Homo sapiens: one gene and its partners. The protein of the gene in region 3 interacts with the protein of the main gene of each other region in a pairwise test. Each region holds a gene or a part of one and is shown on either strand. Other genes may lie near its edges.

Evidence for each region. Proteins that work in one complex are often made in the same cells at the same time.
Region 1: the proteins of YTHDF1 (region 3) and QKI interact in a two-hybrid assay, tested with the Homo sapiens proteins (one large-scale study listed by BioGRID).
Region 2: the proteins of YTHDF1 (region 3) and CPSF7 interact in a two-hybrid assay, tested with the Homo sapiens proteins (one large-scale study listed by BioGRID).
Region 4: the proteins of YTHDF1 (region 3) and MOV10 interact in a two-hybrid assay, tested with the Homo sapiens proteins (one large-scale study listed by BioGRID).

Annotation. Positions count from the first base shown.
Region 1 is NC_000006.12:163,529,718-163,533,217, forward strand, and holds part of QKI (KH domain-containing RNA-binding protein QKI), read left to right. Parts: intron 1-3,500. UniProt on the Homo sapiens protein: RNA reader protein, which recognizes and binds specific RNAs, thereby regulating RNA metabolic processes, such as pre-mRNA splicing, circular RNA (circRNA) formation, mRNA export, mRNA stability and/or translation.
Region 2 is NC_000011.10:61,409,476-61,412,975, reverse strand, and holds part of CPSF7 (cleavage and polyadenylation specificity factor subunit 7), read left to right. Parts: intron 1-1,038; coding exon 1,039-1,207; intron 1,208-1,870; coding exon 1,871-2,033; 3' UTR 2,034-2,038; exon of another isoform or gene 2,039-2,395; intron 2,396-3,500.
Region 3 is NC_000020.11:63,209,632-63,213,131, reverse strand, and holds part of YTHDF1 (YTH domain-containing family protein 1), read left to right. Parts: intron 1-3,500.
Region 4 is NC_000001.11:112,684,659-112,688,158, forward strand, and holds part of MOV10 (helicase MOV-10), read left to right. Parts: intron 1-2,307; exon of another isoform or gene 2,308-2,448; intron 2,449-3,500.

The sequences.
Region 1 (3,500 bases), on a different chromosome or scaffold from region 3:
TAGATGTGAATGGGTGCATGTGCAGCAGCCAGTCTCTGTCAAAGCACAAGTAAGCCATGACTGTGTTTCAGAGATTTCCTACAAAGCCTCAAATTCTAAAAATCCACGCTGATTCAGAAAATTCATTCAGGATGAGTAATAGCTGAGACATTAATTGTGGACAGATTTGCAGCAGGGAGGTATGAACCCCAGTTTGGACATGTGGAGTTCAGACTGCTTTAGAGATTGAAGTATACATTTCTAGTTGGCAGTTGAATTTGGAGGTCTAGAAATCAGGGGGCAGTACTGTGCTGGAAAATGTAAATTTGGGATTATATTGATGCAAAACTGTGTTCTTCTATGTTGCTGAAGATTTAGTAGCACATATATTATGAAATGATATTGCAAATGGTAACTGTAAAACAGACATTATAGTAGTCATGAGCTATTTTTTTCCACATCAGTATCTCAGCTATTAACCCCTGAAAGATTGTTTGAAACATAATTGTAAAAAGAAACGAATGCCTCGTAGAACACAGTTTCTAATAAATACAGCATTTTTGGTGTGCGTCCATATCATCATCCCTCCTGTCTGCTTATTTCAACCTTTTCTTTGTCCTGATGTATTTAAGTGAGAAAATGGGTTTTGTGAGTGGATTCTTACTATGGATATTTTAAGTTCAGAAGTAACCATCCTATAATTGCATCTATCCTTAATGACTAAAAGAGGACCTTTTGGGGTGTGTTTTATTGATTTCTCTATAAAATTTGCCAATCCCAGATTGCCTTTATAATCTGCTTAAGAAACAGAATGAGATCACAGGGAGAAATAGTATTTGTATTAAATAATTACTAAGCTGCAAACTCACTGAAGGAATTTAACTCTTCTTGAGCTGGAATGGACTACAGTAGAATGAATATGGCTTCATGGCTTCTGCGTAGCATGACCTCAAAGCCTTTTTTTGTGTGACATTTGATATGCACATGGATGAAAGATTTTCTGAGGCCTGATGTGGAAAACGGGTTGGTCGGTCTCTCTCTTCACACTGCACCCCCTCCAAAACACTAAAAGAGGTGCTTTTAGTGTTTACTTTCAATTGCTACATTGTTTGATTTTGAAGTGTCCGCTTCATTTATTCCTTGTGGTGAAAACTCAGTGGGTCCTTTTCATCTGGAACCTCAGATCCCTCAGTTTTGCGAAAAATATATAACATTGATGATTTTTCTCCCTCTGCTTTCTTTTTCTTTATATTGGTAGTTGGACATCGTCATTTCAGTTTCTGAACCTCTTGGACTAGTCCTCTAATATTATACAGTTCTGCACCATTTTTTTTTATCTCTGTCTTTTGCTACTTGGAGAGTTCCTCAGTTTGTCTTCCAACCTTCTATCAAATTTTTCATCTTTGCTCTCATGTTTTTAGTTGCAGGAGTTTCTATTTGTATTCAAAATTTTTAAATAGAGCATTCTTGTTTCAGCATTGTAGCGTCTTTTATTAACTCTCTGAAGGGTCAGTTGTTCAAGTCTCCTGTCCCCAAGATGTGGGCCTGGGTTCCCTTGCTCTGCATTTGGAGCAGGGGAGATGGCCGGCCAGCCCAGCTGTCAGAGTGGAAGTTACCCTGTCAACTGTTCTCCTAATGCAGTTTGAGCAAGTGTTTTACTTCCTTTCAGAATCAGTTTCTGGTCTACTGCTGGGAATTAGGGAGTGCTTGATAGCTAGCCATTTGTGGACAGGGGATATGGGAATTGAACTGCTTTTTAATGAGAGTTCATCTAGTCCTGCAATCTCAGCCCCACCCTCACCCCTGTTTTCACTGCTGCCCATTTCCTCAGTATTTTTGGGGTGGATTGCAAGGAAATAAGTTTCTTTCTTAACTAGAGTCAGGTAAATTTTAAGTTAACCATCTGCTTTCTAGATTCTTAATTTTTAAATGGTTTCCTTTCCCATTTTCTTACTTCTTACGAGTTTGGACATTTTATTTATTTATTTATAATAGACACAGGGTCTGACTGTTCCCCAGGCTGGCCTTGAACTCCTGGGCTCAAGCAGTCTTCCTGCCTCGGCCCCCCCAAAGTGCTGGGATTACAGGCATGAGCCACTGTGCCCGGCTGAGTTTGTACATTTTAAACTCTGCAGTGTTGTAGAAGAATTTTTGGTGGGAGTGTAAGTACACCATTCCATTAATTTCTCCATCTTTGAAAATTTTTGCTCCTTCAATTGTTTTTAAAAGTGTAAGCAAAAATGTTGATTTTGAAGCAAACAGGGTAGATGTAGCTTTCTCCTATTTTTATATTTTTAACTATCATTTAAGTTGTTGAATTAGTAAGAGTACGCATTGGCCAAGTGTTTTACACCTTAAAAATGTATTCTTGCAATAAAGCAAAATGGCAAATAATACTGCAACTTTGTTTCTATCATGAAAATAATTATTCCTTTTAAATTCTCTGGCTTTTCTCCATGTATAGAGGTTTCTGCGGCAAGTCAAATTTTAGTTTTTATTCTTAAGCTTTTCTCAAAAATATTTGATTATAAATGTTCCTCAGTTTTCATTGTATTAGTATCTATATGCATTAGTGTTTGACACACACACATAGAGCTTTTAATGTCTTTGTCTATTTATAATAACATCTGTATCACTTCTAGATTGGTTTGAGTGAATTGATTGGGGGGGAGGTGGTCTCATGTATTGCATTTTTCTTGCTGCTTTGCATGCCCGTTAATTTCTAATTGTATGCCAGACTTTTACCTTGTTGGGTGGATATTTTTATATTCCTATAAATATCTTTGAGCTTTGTCCTGGGACACAGTTAAGTTAGTTGGAAATAATTTAAGGCATTTGGTCTTACTTTTAAAATGTATTTAGTTGTACTGGAACAATGCTTAGATTAGGTTTAGTTTTTTCCTACCACTGAGGCAAGACCTTTCTGTGTCCCTTACCCGTGGGGAATCCTTCAAGTCTTTCAGTCTTGTTCTTTTCTAGAGCCAGGCACTTTGACCTGGAATCCTTTTGGGTGGTTCCTTCCCTGGCCTCTGGAATTTTCTCTCAAGTATGCAACGATCAGGGTTCAGCTGAATATTTGAGTGGCAGCTCTCCCAGGACTCTCTGAGCTTTGGCTGCCTCGGTTTCCCTGGACTCTTGCTTAGTCTCCTCATGGAGTTGTCTGGAGACTCTCAAGCCAGTGAGTGGGGGCAGTTATAGGCTCACCTCAGTTGTTCCCAACTCTGTGTCATTTGTCCTTAGTTGTCTGATGTCCAGTGGCTTGAAACTTGTTGATACGTTTTGCCAGTTTTTTGGTTGTTTCAGCAGGAAGGTGAATCTGGTTCCTGTTACTATATCTTGCCTGGAAACAGAAGTCCCTCATATATATGCGTTTAGTCAAATAGGTGCACTTTTAGGCCCACCAAATAATACCAGACTAGTAGCTTTTGTAGGTCTCTCTCCAAAAAAAAAAAGATAAATAAAAAATACAAATTTTGGTGAGAAAATACTGTTAGCATTCTTGAACATAACAATTGAAATCT
Region 2 (3,500 bases), on a different chromosome or scaffold from region 3:
TCAAAAACAAAATAGTCCTCTATACAAGGACCATCAACCAATAAGACCACCTTTTATAGTTTATATTCCTCCAGAATTTTTTCTATGCATATGACAATTTATATAATTTTTATTGTTTTTACAAAAACAGGATATGGTTTTGAAACTTGCTTGTTTCAATTAGTATATTCTGGACACCTATTATATCAACATATAACATAACATTTATTGATCCTTACTGTGTGCCTGGCACTGTGCTAAGGGCTTTACATGGATTACTTTGTTTACATACAGGTTTACCTCCTGCTTTTTTAATTGTTAATAGTACATTAATAATGTAATATTCTGTAGAACCAATGTTCCTTTATATAGCCAGACCCTATTGAAGATAATATAACAAACAACACTGGCCGGGCGCAGTGGCTCATGCCTGTAATCCCAGCACTTTGGGAGGCCAAGGCGGGCGGATCACAGGGTCAGGAGATCAAGACCATCCTGGCTAACACGGTGAAACTCCGTCTCTATTAATAATACAAAACATTAGCTGGGTGTGGTGGCAGGCGCCTGTAGTCCCAGCTACTCAGGAGGCTGAGGCAGGAGGATGGCGTGAACCTGGGAGGCGGAGCTTGCAGTGAGCCGAGATCACGGCCACTGCACTCCAGCCTGGGCAACAGAGTGAGACTGTCTCAAAAAAAAAAAAAATGAAAAAAAATAAACACTAAAACACTGTTAAACATACACACTTGTGAACAGAAGTAGAAAATTTTTAATAGAATTGCTGGCTCAAAAAATATGCACATTGTTTATTTTAATAGATGTCAAATAGCCCCTGGACAACAGTGTGTCAGTTTGTTCATCTGACAACATCTGTTAAATTCCGAACTGCTGGAATATAGGTGTCATCCAGTTTTACACTTGCAACATCTGCCTTGTCTCTTTTACCGCGGTTGTTTGGGACGGCTAGCTACTCTTGGTTTGTGTCTGCCTGAGTTCTCCTTTTGGTCCAGTTAGTTTACCATCTCTCCTCACCCTTGGCCTTTCTCCTTCATCCTTTATCAGGGGATTACAGTGACGCAATTGAGACGCTGCTCACAGCCATTGCGGTTATCAAACAGTCCCGGGTTGCCAATGATGAGCGTTGCCGTGTCCTCATCTCCTCTCTTAAGGACTGTCTTCATGGCATCGAAGCCAAGTCCTACAGTGTGGGTGCCAGTGGGAGCTCTTCCAGGTGAGTTGGTGATTGTGTCCTCACCTACCAGCCCCAAGCAGCACTCTTCCAGGGATAGGGAGTGGGGACAAATGGAGCCCAGGGAATCTGGGAAAGACCTGGCCGAAAGTCTGGACGTTAGCCTTCATGTCTTTTTGGGGAAGAAACTAATCAGATGCTTTCATTAATAAGTGTTGTAACATCTGGAATCTGGTGGGTGAGGCAGTGGGCTCATGTAGGAAAAAATACAGACAGATATTTTTAAGAACATGGGTTTTGGAGCCCTACAAGCTTGGATTGGAATCCCAGTTCTGCTGCTAACTATCTGTATGACCTTCTTGTGTATGGAAGTTAGTCAACTTTCCAAGCCTTATTTTTCTCATTTTCTAAAAAAGGGACACTGATAGTATTTATCTTACAGACCTGTTGTAAAGATTAGGTCAGATAATCCATACAAAATTATTAGCACTACACCTGATAAATTAGTTCTCAACAGATAAATTTACCTGTTAATCATCTTCCCAAAAAAGAGTAGTCCTCAAAGAGCTAAAATCCTCAGACAGCAGGCCCATGATAGAGTAATAGAGGAATAGTTTAGGCAAATATCAGAAGACACCAAAACACCACATTCTTGGAAAGAAAGTGGTAGGCCTTCTGAGTGAGGCTGAAGGATCTTTCTAATAGGAAAAGACATCGCTCCCGGGAAAGGTCACCTAGCCGGTCCCGGGAGAGCAGCAGGAGGCACCGGGATCTGCTTCATAATGAAGATCGGCATGATGATTATTTCCAAGAAAGGAACCGGGAGCATGAGAGACACCGGGATAGAGAACGGGACCGGCACCACTGAGAAAGGTGGGGAGAAGCCCCGTTCCTGGCTGCTGGGGGATTTTTTATTAAAAAAAGATTTATAGTGAAGAATTCTCTCTCTTTAAAGCAAAAGTAAATGCAGCAAGGGTAGGGGGAACTTCTGATTTACATAACTGGAATTTCAGGGCAGATTTTCTGCACATTTATGGGGAGTCTTACCCTGAGATTCAGCTGTTTCTGCTTGTTTCTTGACTGCCTTAACCTGGTATCTGAGTGAGAGTATGGTGTCTGCATTCAGGTACCAATTTGAATCCCAGTTTCTCCACTAATAATTGGCCATATTACTTTCTGTTCCACAGTTTCATTTGTAAATGAAGATAATAAAAGCAACTGTCCCAGTGACTTGCTAAGTTTTAGTGAGAGAGTCCATGTAGACCATTTAGCACTCATGGTACCTGTCACATAGTAAGTTCTCAATAATTAATAGCCATTGTTATTATCATTATGAACTTTCAATTTAAATTAGGAAAATTGACTAAGAATAGTAAAGCCATTGCCACTTAGTTTTCAAGCTGCAACATTAATGATTTTAAGAATTAGGCTTGGCATGATGGCTCACACCTATGATCCCAGCACTTTGGGAGGCCAAGATGGGAGGATTGTTTGAGCCAGGAGTTCGAGACCAGCCTGGGCAACATAGGGAGACCCTGTCTCTACAAAAAATACAAAAATTAGCCAAGTGTGGTGGTCCCAGCTACTTAGGAGGTGGAGGTGGGAGGGTTGCTTGAGCCTAGGAGGTCGAGGCTGCAGTGATCTGTGATTGCACCACTGCACTCTGGCCTGAGCGACAGTGAGACCTTGTCTGAAAAAAGGTAGGGAGGAGGGGCGGGTGGGTGCCTCATGCCTGTAATCCCATCACTTCAGTAATTTGGGAGGCAGAGGCTAGAGGATCACTTAAGCAGGAGTTTGAGACCAGCCTGAGCAACATAGTGAAACCCTATCTTTTTTTTTTTGAGACAGAGCCTCACTTTGCCGCCCACGCTGGAGTATAGTGGCATGATCTCAGCTCACTGCAACCCCCACTTCCCGGGTTCAAGCTATTCTGCCTCAGCCTCCCCAGCAGCTGGGGCTACAGGCGCGCGTCACCACGCCCGCTAATTTTTCTGTTTTTAGTAGAGGCGGGGCTTTACCATACTGGCCAGGTTGGCCTTGAACTCCTGACTTCGTGATCAGCCCACCTTGGCCTCCCAAAGTGCTAGGATTACAGGCGTGAGCCACCATGCCTGGCCGAGACCCCATCTCTTTAAAAAAAAAAAAACGGTTTATTTAAAAGATTTTGAAAATTAATATGCTTTAGTCAGAGAGGAGAAAGCTGATCTGAAAAATTATCTTTAACAGGTTTAGAGGCTTTGTGGTGGATAATTAACTTCAACGGAAGGGTTTTTTGCTTTTGGAAAAGACTTAGTGACAAGGTTGTTTATTTTGTTGTTGTGTTTTTTGTTTTGTT
Region 3 (3,500 bases):
CACCACTGACTGGCCTGTGTCCATGGCTTGCCTTCTCTTGCCTCAATTTCCTTTTCTGTAGAAGAGAGAGAGTAGTAACTGTTTGTAGAATTGTTGGGAGGATGACATCAGATGGTGCACATAAAGCGCTGAGACAGTACCTGATACAGCAGGGCCCAGTGAGTCATAGCTGCCCTGTTTTCTTAGGTAATTCAGGCTTTCTCTGCCTTGGCACTGTGGACATTTTGCACGGGAACATTCTGTTTTGGGGGCTGTCCTGTGCATTGTTGGATGTTTAGCAGCCTCCCTGGCTTCCCACCCACTAGATGCCATTAGCAACTCCTTCTCCCCATCCCCAGTTGTAGCAAGCAAAACTGTCTTGGTGGATGTTTTTTGGGGGATACAGTTGCCCTGGTTAAAATCTACTGGGAGCTGCTCTCTCTCCTCTGTGCTGCTGTTGCAGCAAAACTCCCAAGAGAAGCGGTATCTGTTTATGTCTAAGAGTCCAACTCGGGAATCAGACTTCCCCTGCCTCACTTTCCTACCTCCAGGCCGTTGGCTTGGATGAGGGGCTGCACCTCTGTGAGCTCCTCACTTTGGTGAGCAGGCCTCATGGGGCAGCACAAAGCAGATGCTCTGAGTGCTCCATTTCGTGTGCTGTGATTCACATTCCTTCCTCCGCCACTCCAAGTAGCCCTCAGCTACTGGGCATGTTTACTTTAAAGTAAAACCAGGCTTCACCTCTTCTCTGTGAAGGAATAAAACTAGTCTGCCCTTTTCTGAGGTGTCTTAGAACTTCTTAGAATGTTCCTTCATCCCCCTCCCTCCTACTGCACTTGGCGAATCAAGCAGCTTAGAGACCAAGAAACCTTGTACAGGTGGAGCCTCGGCAGCGCTGCCCCGCGCTCCGACCCTGCTTCTGTTTCTTGTCTCTTGGTTGCCTTCTGAGAATCTGCCCTTCCTCTGGGCAGAACTGACTTGACTTTAGTGATGGGCCTTTGGATAGAGGTAATGGCAGGAAGTTAACTAATTTTTTGAATTTCTTGTTTTCTAGTGTGTTCTTATTATTTTAGTACTTTAATGGTATTATGTACTGAATTTTAGCCAATAAAGGGGGAGGGAGGTTGCATCAGTACACTTAAAAGTGTGTGTGTGTGTGTGTGTGTGTGTGTGTGTGTGTGTGTGTGTGTGTATTTTGGAGACAGGGTCCTGCTGTTACCCAAGCTAGAGTTCAGGGGCATGATTATAGCTCACTGTAGCCTCAAATTCCTGGGCTTAAGCAATCCTCCTGCCTCAGCCTCCTGAATAGCTGGGACTACAGGCATGCACCACTACACCTGGTGATTGATTGATTGGTTGGTTGTAGACACAGGGTCTCTTTGTGTTGCTCAGGCTAGTCTTGAACTTCTGGGCTCAAGTGATCTTCCTGCTTTGGCCTCCCAAAGTGCTAGGATTACAGGTATGAGCCACTGTGCCCAGCCAAAAATATTTTTATAAAGTCGGAGCTTTTGTGTTGTTTGGGAGGATTTCTTTACAAATCGATTATTTTTATGTCAGTGGGTGTCTTAGCTCCATATGTAGAGTATACAGTATGGTTTTATAACTTTTGATTTACACAGACATACCTTTGGAGCCATGGCCACAGTTAAGATAGTGGGCATATCAATAGCTCTGGGTCCTTTTTTGTTGGAGACAGGGTCTCACTCCATTGCCCAGGCTGGAGTGCATGATGTGATCATGGCTCACTGCAGCCTCGACTTCCCAGGCTCAGGTGATTCTCCCACCTCAACCTCCCAAGTAGCTAGGACTACAGGCATGTGCCACCACGCCCAGCTAATTTTTAAATTTTTAGTAGACATGAAATATTGCTGTGTTGCCCAGGCTGGTCTTGAACTCATGGGCTCAAGCAATCCACACGCATCAGCCTCCCAAAGTGCTAGGATTATAGGCATGAGCCACTAGTGCCCAACCTAACCCTGGGTACTTAAAAGAGAAAAATCTAGATATGGTTTGTAGTAGCCAGTTGGAGGCTACCGTGTTTTGTGTGAAACTGTCATACTTAGAATGGTTTAGAAAGTCTTAGGAGAATGCCTGCCTGTTAGGTTGGTTTAACTTGTAATGGGCTGTGAGGGGTTGTTGCCGTGTGGTGGGGGTCCTTCCCTCAGAGAGGCCTCACCCGCCTTGCTGTGCTTCTGGTGCTAGAGTTTCAGTCCTAGTTGCCCCTGAGGCGCTTGCGACTGTAGCCGCTCAGTATCTGTCTTCTAGTCTGTGACTTGAATGGGAGTTGGGGGAGCAGAGGAACTGGGAGTGAAGGGCTCTGGGTTGGGCTTGATTGTTGTGATTTTCTCTCTTTTTTTGTTTTTTGAGATGGAGTTTCGCTCTTGTTGCCCAGGATGGAGTGCAGTGGCGCGATCTCAGCTCACTGCAGCCTCCACCTCCCTGGCTCAAGTGATTCTCCTGCCTCAGCCTCCCGAGTAGCTGGGATTACAGGCACGCGCCACCACGCCTGGCTAATTTTTTTTGGTATTTTTAGTAGGGACGGGGTTTCTCCATGTTGGTCAGGCTGGTCTCGAACTCCCGACCTCTGGTGATCCCCCTGCCTCAGCCTCCCACAGTGCTGGGATTACAAGCATGAGCCACAGTGCCCCGCCGATTCTCTCTTTTGAGGCTTTTCCTGCTCGGGGACTTCTGGTTTCCCAGTTCTCTGTTGTTTTCTGAAAGGAAAGACTGTGAAATGACCCAGAACAGTTCCTACTCAGAGTTTAGAAGACACTGTCTTGGCATGATGCCTGAGTTGGGAATAGATGCCGCTGGCCCCCCAGGCTTCCTGCACACTCCCTGACCAACAGACTGAGTGTGTTTGCTGTGATCCCACTGACAGAAATTACCAAGGCCATCTGGGCATGCCTGTACCTGTGCTGCCGGATGCAGTTTGGTCAGCAACAGACCACAATATGATAGTGGTCCCATAAGACTATGATGGTGCTGAAAAATTCCTGGCACCTGGTGACGTTGGAGCTACCATGTTGAGGGCAGTGTATTACTCGTGTCTGTGGTGCTGCAGTAGGTGTGACCAAACCTACTGCCCCAGTCATACCAGAGTATACACCTACAGTTACGTACAGTACCATACAGTACGTAATAATTGATGATAAACGACTGTTACTACTTTGTGTATTTGCTATACTTTTAAGAGCATATTCTGCCTACTTACTAGAAACAAAGTCAACTGTAAAGCAGCCTCAGGCAGGTTCTTCAGGAGGAATCCAGAAGAAGGCAATTGGTGTGACAGGAGATGACAGCTCCATGTGTGTTGTTGCCCCTGAATACCTTCCAGTGGGGCAAGATGTGGAGGTGGAAGATCCAGACCCTGTGTAGGCCTAGGCTAATATGTGTTTTTTGTGTCTTTTTGGGTTTTTGGTTTTTTTGTTTTGTTTTGTTTTGAGGCAGGGTCTCTCCCTCACCTGGGCGGAAGTGCAGTCATGACTCATTGCAGCCTTGACCTCCTGGGCCCAAGTGAT
Region 4 (3,500 bases), on a different chromosome or scaffold from region 3:
ACCAGCAATTTATGAGTTCACTTTTCCACATACCCATTATAGTAATATATGCTAGAACTATGTTCATTTTTGTCAGTCTAATGGGAATAAAATAATATCTCATTTATACTTTAATTTGCATTTCTCTACATTTGGAGCAGTTTTTCATACTCTTTTGGCCATCTGGATCTGTTCTTTTAATTGAATATTCGATTTTTCTGTTGAATTGTTCATCTTGTCAATTTGTAAGAAAATTTATATATTATAAAAATTAGCCCTTTGCCTGTCATCTGCATTATGAGTATTTATCTGGTATTTATCTGTTGAATGTGTTTATATTACCTTTTGCTAGAGAAAATATTTTTTAGTAGTCAGAAATGTTTGTTTTCTTTTTTAGAGACAGGGTTACCCAAGCTCTGTTAACCAAGCTGGAGTGCAGTGGCGTAATCACAGCTCACTGCAGCCTTGACCTCCTGGGCTCAAGTGATCCTTCTGCCTCAGCCTCCTGAGTAGCTGGGACTACAGGTGTGCACCACCATGCCTGGCTTTTTTTTTTTTTTTTTTTCACTATTGCCCAGGCTGGTCTCAAACTCCTGGGCTCAAGCAGTCCTACCACCTCAGCTTCCCAAAGTGTTGGGATTACAGGCATGAGCCACCACACTTGACCTAGTTTTATTTTATAGCTGCTGGTTTCCAGTCTTGGTTAGAAAGTTTTTCTTAGAAATATAGGGGATTACGGCCGGGCACGGTGGCTCACACCTGTAATCCCAGCACTTTGGGAGGCCGAGGCGGGCAGATCAGGAGGTCAAGAGATTGAGACCATCCTGGCTAACATGGTGAAATTCTGTCTCTACTAAAAATAGAAAAATTAGCTGGGTGTGGTGGCGTGCACCTGTAGTCCCAGCTACTTAGGAGGCTGAGGCAGGAGACTCACTTGAACCCGGGAGGCAGAGGTTGCAGTGAGCCAAGATCGTGCCACTGCCCTCCAGCCTGGTGATAGAGCAAGATTCCGTCTCAATAAAATAAAATAAAATAAAATAAAATAAAATATAAAATAAAATAAATATAGAGGATTACATGTATAATACAAGGATTGGGGCTTTTTTCCGACAAGAATATAATAAGTTTGTGATTTTTTAAAAATAATTTTTGTATGACTGTTACCTAGACCAATGTTAGGTGAATTTGGGTAGTGATGAGAGACATAGAGAATAATTTGAGAAATATTTAGGGATAGCATCTGCAGTAGAATTTGGAAATTTTACAGAGATGAGTTCTGTCTGCCCTTGTGCCATGCAGGTTTTCAAAAATAGGAGGTTTCATGTTAAAATTTTGATTTTGTCTTTTCTTGAAAGTCAGATCTGGCCATCCGGGGCCTGCATTCCCTACTGGCCCCGTTCGAAGATAAGCAGTTACCTGCTTCAGACAGGGCATGCACTTCCCAGTTTGTTCAGTCCCCACAAAGCCCTCTTTCTGCCCAGCATTGATCTGGGAGCCTGGAGCCACTTTTCTTGGAGGTTGCACTTTGTTTTCTTAGCGTTGTGAGGGATATGCATGCAGTATTCTTACACTAGTGACTCTCAAAAATGGACTGAACAGGTGTCTGAAAGGGCTGCAAGGATCAAGATACCTGTGAAGCATAGCTGCTGTAGGCATTAGCTTGTGCCTCGATCCATGGGACTTTGATGGACTCTAAGAAGCCCTTGTGAAAGTTACTGATGATCTCCTGATTTCAGTCCCTGTATTACTGGACCCCTCAGCAGCTTTTGATCCTGATACCTGATTTTGAGACTTTGCTGATTCTCCTTTCTCTCTTGAGGGTTTCTTGTTTTCCCTTCCTCCCCGGGTTGTGCTAGTAGCTGCTCTCAACTACTCACACTCCCTGGGGAGATTCCTACACTTCCTTGATTATAACCACTACCTGGGGACTCCCTAATACTAGGCTGTAACCTTGACTTTGGCCTGAGTTCTCAGCTTCTGACTCGTGGAGCTGGTTGCCTCTGGACCACAGGAATCTCAAACGCATCATATCCAAATCCAAATGTCATGGTCAGTCCCTCCAACCCCTCCTCCTCTTGTCTTACATCCTATCTCAGAGATAGTCCTAGAAGCCAGGCCATTGATTTGGGGATCCTAGACTCATCCCTCTTCCCAGCCTTCATTCCCCCTTCTGTCAGTCACCAAATTTCTGCTAATTTTACATTCTAAGTATTAGCGAATCTTGCCGCTCTTCTTCTGTATCTCTACCCACTGCCTTGCTCAGGCCTTTGTTATCTTTTAACTGGACAATTGCAAGGGCCTTCTTCTAACTGGTCTCCCTGCCTACAGTCTTGCCTCCAGCAAATCCATCCTCCAATCCTGATGCCAGAGTGATCTGAAATGCAAATATGATCTTGCCACTCCCCTGCTTAAAACCCACCAACCGCAGTGGTTCTGTAACCACAGTGTAGCCTCTGACGTGGGCTGAAAGTAAGTTGTTACTACTCCTACTACTACTGCTACTATTAGTACTACTATTTCTACTAATATAAATACTAACAATAGTAGCTAACATTTACTGAGCATTTTCTATTATGCTTTTGAATGATTTATTACCTTTTTAAAACAAATCATAGCCAATTCAATGTTTTCCAAATTGTACCAGTCTCATTTGCTTGGGGTGAAGGAGAGGGGCAGAGTTACAGGCAGCAGGCACCTGAAAAATACTCATAACCATAAATGATCTTATCACATACCCTAGTGAGTGACCATGATGATTTAGCCTGAAGAGTTAAATAGGAATTACCATAGTCCTCATAAACAAAGATTTGCTTTTAAGGGAGGGTGTCAGTCATCTAGATCTTGAATATGTCCCTGAAGTATGTGGCACGTGGGAATGTCCTCAGGCTCCTGGGTATCAGTAGAGCGGGGAAAACGACTGCAGACATGCAGAGTCAAGTCCAGGCTTGGCCTGTTGTGCAAAACTGTCCATGATCTGGTCCCTGCCCACCTCTGCTCCTCCTGCCACTCCCTTCCTTGTGCATTTCACTCTAGCACAATGAAACTGTATGTGATACTAATCATGGCTCACCCTTACTGAGGTCTCCTATGTGCCAAGCACTGTGCTAAGTGGTTCTCTGCCGTGTCAAAATCTCATGTAAACCTCACAGCAACCCTACGAGGTAAGTCTCGCTTTCCTCCAATTTTATAGAGGAGGAAAGCGAGGCTCTGAGAGGTGAGGTCAACTGAGCTGACCTGGCTAGAGTTGTCAAGTGGGCCGCCCCCCTCTGCCCCTCCCTGCACATGTTCTTGCGTACCTCTCACATCTGCTTACACTTCGCGCTCCCTCTTGTGCCCAGGTAATGCCCACTCATCCTCAGGACTCAGTTCTTATGCTGCCTCCTGGGAAGGCCTTCATGGACACCTCCTCTGCCCCCAGACTGGGCTCAGTGTCCCTCTGTGGCACTGAGCCCCTCTGTGGCCGATGAGCTGCCCTCCAAGCACCACGCTGGAATGTATATGTTCAGTCTGTGTGCTCCTCG